Linked DNA regions of Homo sapiens: region 1 is linked to region 2. The links come from fine-mapping of genetic effects on gene expression. Tissue or cell type: visceral fat. Region 2 holds a variant in brackets; the other region holds the start of a gene. All regions are shown on one strand. Distances are from middle to middle.

The links. PIP is the estimated chance that this variant, and not a neighbour inherited with it, causes the effect.
Region 1: FAM240C starts here. The variant in region 2 is fine-mapped to the expression of FAM240C in visceral fat (GTEx, PIP 0.99).

Annotation. Positions count from the first base shown.
Region 1 is chr2:241,899,270-241,901,952 of GRCh38, reverse strand. It overlaps FAM240C (family with sequence similarity 240 member C), which reads left to right and starts at 1,489. Exons shown (of 3, transcript NM_001382368.1): 1 at 1,489-1,595. The coding sequence starts at 1,584. The region is part of intron 2 of LINC01237 (long intergenic non-protein coding RNA 1237); the gene reads right to left. RefSeq lists enhancers at 84-729, 730-1,373, 1,374-2,018.
Region 2 is chr2:242,131,114-242,133,796 of GRCh38, reverse strand. The region is part of intron 4 of LINC01881 (long intergenic non-protein coding RNA 1881); the gene reads right to left. Among named protein-coding and RNA genes, the nearest start is that of LINC01881, 44 kb to the right of the region's middle. The variant G/A (reference allele first, on the strand shown) is at 1,569.

The sequences.
Region 1 (2,683 bases), 230 kb after region 2:
GTCAGAAGGAAGGGGCCTGGAAGGACAAGTTTTGAAGTGTAGGCCGGTGTTGTGATTGCTGGTTGGTTTGGCCTCTCGGCTCCAGGGCAGGTGGGGAATCCCCGGGGCGCTCGCGCATAGGACCTGGGGAGACCACCACGGGCTTTACAAAAACGCAGTCCTGCTGGAGACGCCTCTCCTGGGGCTATTCCTTTCCGTTTTTAGGTGGCTTCCTCCCATCGGTGCTGCACGCAGCGGTTTTTCTGAAGCAGCTGCTGGTTCTCACCGGCGTCTTCCACCCGCGCTGCCTGAGCACCGTCTTTCCACCTTGTGCATTCTGTGCGCTGCGGCATGTCCCGGCGCGTCCTGAGGCCTAACCCCAGTTCGCAGGGAGCCACAGATCAAGGTGTCCTGAGCACACGCCAGGACTCGGGAAATCACGAACAGCTCCCAATCCACTGATGACACCCACAGAACTCCAGTTTAAAAAAAAACAACTGTGAAGGATAATATAAAAAATAAGTGTACCGTCTGCTTTATGATAGTAAACGAAAATTTCCCAAAAGCTTTCACCTGAAACTATCAATGACTTGGAAACCTCATAAAGAAGCAAGTGACCCGGGAGACTGAAACGAGATCACGGAGGCTGGCCCTGGGCCGGCCCTGCTGCCGGCTCCCTGAGGCCTGGAGGGATGGATCCTGGGAGAGGAACCCCGTCCAGGACAAAGCCTGGGGGCTTCACTTTGTGCATCTACCTGATGGCACCAGGGCGGCGGCTGGGACAGTGTTTCTGGGTGCGGCTGGGAGGGTGTTTCCGGACGCGGTGACCCCCGTGTGCTGGGCGTCATCCAATCCTCTGACGGCCTGAAGGTGCCGCGGTGGAGGAAGGAGGAATCGCTCCTGCTCGCCTGCCTTCCTTCCTGCTTGCTCCAGGACGCCTCATCTCACCGTCTCTGGACCAAGGTCTGGAATTTACACCAACCTCCCTCAGAGTCGGGTTGACTGACACCGCAGGCTTTCCTGGGTCCCAGATGGCAGATCCCGAGACCTCTCAGCGCCTGTCACCGCGAGAGCCAGCTCCTCACAATAAATACGTAAACCCATGTATGGGTGGGGCAGAGAGACCCTAAGCATTTCCACACCTGCCTTGAGTGTGTCTGCATCGTCGTTTTGTGATATACATTTCGCCTGCAGTAAGTGCAAAGGCCACCATTCCTGAGACGCAGGCCTGGGCAAAACCCAGGACTCCTAGGTGCCCCGACGCCCCTCCCCAGACAATGCTCCCTCCCACCCACAAGGTTTCCTGGGAGCAGCCGTCGAAAGAAGAAAAAAACAGTCCCGATGGGGGCTGAGGGCAGAGGAGGCCCAGCTGGCCGTCCTCCAGATTCCCATGCTGCCAACAGCTGCCCTCCGGACGGACAGCTCTGCCAGGGACGGTGCCCAGACAGAGGGCAGCGCGTCTTTCTGGGACTGAACCGACGCCAAGCATGCGTGTCACTGAGCCCATGTAACAGAGAGCGGCAGGCGAGATACAGGCGTGCACCCCGGAGAGGACAGGCTGAGGACCCTCAACAGAGACAGGAAAACCTGCCCGTCACTGAGAAATGGTTGGAAAAGTAAGCTCTCTGTGATGTGACAGGCGCTGTCCTTGCTTGAGAGATTGGCGCTGCATTTGGGGGCCCCCAAAAGGTGAACAGAGTATGTGACATATCTGGCACAAGACGTGAGCCCACCCGCATTTCGCTGGGGGAACTGAACTTTGTAATTTTGTTTTCCCACTGGGATTCCTGCTGTCAACACCTTTGGTGGGGGGAGAGTGTCTCCATCACCTGCCTCACAACACGCACCCCTTTGTGTGTCTGTTGTTGTCATTGTTGTTTTGTTTTGTTGCTGTTGTTGTTGTTTATGAGATGGAGTCTCGCTCTGTCGCCCAGGCTGGAGTGCAGTGGCATGATCGCGGCTCACTGCAACCTCCGCCTCCCGGGTTCACGCCATTCTCCTGCCTTAGCCTTCCGAGTAGCTGGGACTACAGGCGCCCACCACGACGCCCGGCTAATTTTTTGTATTTTTAGTGAAGACGGGGTTTCACCGTGTTAGTCAGGCTGGTCTGGATCTCCTGACCTCGTGATCCGCCCGCCTCGGCCTCCCACAGTGCTGGGATTCCAGGCCTGAGCCACCGCGCCCGGCCGCGTGTCTGTTTCTTCTGTCTGCTGGTTTGCTGGTTCTCCCTTTTGCTGCTGGTTTGTTTTTGTCCCATGAGGGTTTAAAGGGCTGCCTTTGGGGGCTAAGTGTCCTAAGAGCAGAAGCTCTAACGCCCACGCTGCTCTCTGAAGCCCCTGCCAAGAACAGCCAGGTCTCAGCTGTCAGATGTTTTCCAGCTGTTACTCGGTTTGAATCTGACACCAGCCCCAGCTTCACTCCGGGAGGCGTCTGCCCAGACACCAGAGGAGGTGCGAAGTTCCGGGGAAGCAGCTGGGCCCGGCCCTGACTGGTGGGTTCCGTGCATCCCACCCTCCTCATTGGATGAGTTTTCACTCACTGAATTCGCGCCAGCGTCCTCAGCACAGGCAGGCGTGGCTGAGTTCAGTCCCTTCATGATCAACTTTGCATGTCTAAGTTTCTGGAACAAAGGGCGTGGCATCGATGGGCGATTTCTGTGGCCCTCCAGGGGCAGCTCCCCAGCAAAGCGCCCAGCACCCACATC
Region 2 (2,683 bases):
GAACCTTTCTTAGCTGAGTCCAGAGAGAGATGTGACAATGAAAGAATGGTCAGAGAAATGTGACATTGCCAGCTTTAAAAAGAGAGAGGAGAGGCAATGAGAAAAGGAATGCTGATGTTCTCTAGAAGATAGAAAAGGCCAGGATATGGATTCTACCCTAGCCGCCATAAAGAAACATGCCTGTCGACAACTTGATTTTAGTTCACTAAAATTCATGCCTGATTTCTGACTTGTGTACAGTGTAAGATGACAAGTTTGTGTTATTTTAGGTCACTTAGTTTGTAGAAATTTGTTACAGCAGTAATAGAACAAGTGGTTATCCATATGAGGCAAATTAGATTGGATATCTATCTCCAATAGAAATCAATTCAAGGTGAATTCCAGGAAAATACTTAAAACATTTAGATTAAAAATAAATGAGAATTTTTGTTACATTTGGTAGGTCATAGAACCAAGAAAAACAAACATTAAGGAGGAAAAATGAACATATGACTACATCAAAATATAAAGCTTCTCTATTTGGATGATATCATAAGGTGACAAATCATAAACTGTAATATTTGCAACATATATATGAGTGAATAAATATACATTTAGAATATATATGAACTCCCAAAAATCAACAGGAAAAATAAGACATAGAACAAGCAAAATGCATAAACAAAAGAAGGCAAAACAAAAATAATGACTCATAATTATATGAAAAGAAGCTCATCTTCATAGATGAGCAGATAAATGCAAATTAAAACCACCCTGAGATACTTTTTACATCCATGAGCCTGATAAAAGTTAGAGTCTAAAAGTAATAATTAACAAAGATGGGAAGTAACATAAAATCTTGTCCATTACTGGTTAAAGTATAAACTGATACAGCTACTTTATAGAATATTACATTATAGAATAAACTTGTGAGTATGTATATGCAGTGACTCAGCATCTTCATTGCTAGTATGTACTCAAGAGAAACTTACAGGAGTGGACTAGGAAGTAAATACAAAATGATTACAACATTGTTTGTTATATCAAAAAATAAAAAAGACACCCAATTTTCCAGCAAAAAAAATAAGTAAAAATAAATCCTGGTGTATTCTAACAATGGAATAATATATAGCCATTAAAATAAATCAACTATTACTGTACATATGAATGTAAGTATCAGCAAAACATATTGTTTAGTGAAAAAGTAAGAAGCTGAAGAAGAATATATACAATATGGTTACATTTATATGAAGTCCAAAAACTTGCAAAATAAAGAAATGTATTTAGAAATAGATTCACATGTGAGAAAACTAGAAGAAAATTAATGAAAGGATAAAAGGGATAGCAGTAATTCTGAGTAGTTGAGGGGATTTCAATTGGAAAAAAATAGTATCATATTCTTTAAGTCAGGTAGTGGGTATTAGCATTTGTTTTACCATCGTTCTTTATTCTTATAGCTACACTATATATTTTCAATGTATTTAATGTATTTTTTGCATAATTAAATATTATGCAATAAATGAGAAAACAAAAAAGTAGAAAATGATAAATTACAATAAAAAATGGAGAAAAAATTATAATCTAGTTGA[G/A]TAATGGTATATTACATAGCTATTTTCTTAAGTAGATGTATGTACATGATGTATGCACGATTGTACATACATGTTCTTAATTATATATAAATATATATGTACATATTTTTAATATAAAATACTAAACAAAGTACACCAAAATATTAGCTCCTATGTTAGTGAGATATTGTTTTGTTTTGTTGTATTTTAAGTTTTACATAGTAGGTGTATTTGTCTGTTTTCATACTGCTATAAAGAACTGCCCAAGACTGGGTAATTTATAAAGGAAAGAAGTTTAATTGGCTCACAGTTCAGCACAGCTTGGAAGGCCTCAGGAAATCTACAATCATGGCGGAAGACAAAGAGGAAGCAAGCCAGCTTCTTCGCAAGGCAGCATGAAGAAGTGCCGAGCAAAGGGGAAAGAATCCCTTATAAAACCATCAAATCTCGTGAGAACTCACTATCACAAGAACAGCACAGGGGAAACTGCCCCCATGATTCAATTACCTCCACCTGGTCTCTCCCTTGACCTGTGGGGATTATGAGGGCTATGGGGATTACAATTCAAGATGAGATTCAGGTGGGGATACAAAGCCTAACCATATCAGTAGGCATGTGTTGAATTTTAAACTCAGAGAAAAATACTAGTGTTTTTATAGGATTCTTACTAAAGAAAAACCAGAAAGTAATAAACCATCTACGCTAAGACATAAAATTCAGTTGTTTAGTTACAAGATAGAATGTGGCCTTGTAAGAAAGCAAATTAACTTCTAACATACAAAGCCTTAGAGAAGATTCAAGTGACTGACGGATCTTAAACAGAGCTATTATTACAACTCAAACTGCAGTAAAATATCCTCAGCAACATAGATGTGTGTGTTTCACTAGTCAGAGCAATACAAATTAAATGAAACTCCATTGGTGGTGTTTTTAATCAGACAATTTCTGAAGATGTCCTGGCTTAATTCATAGATGCAAGCCAAATCTCTAGAAGAGTACCATAATAAGAAAAAAAAGAATACAGGCAATTGAGAGCTGTTCCAAAGTTTAGGGAGTTTTTGTAAGGAATTAATAAATAAAAATGTTCTTGAAAGAGAGAAATTAATATGCAGTTCATACTGCCAGAATTGCAGGCA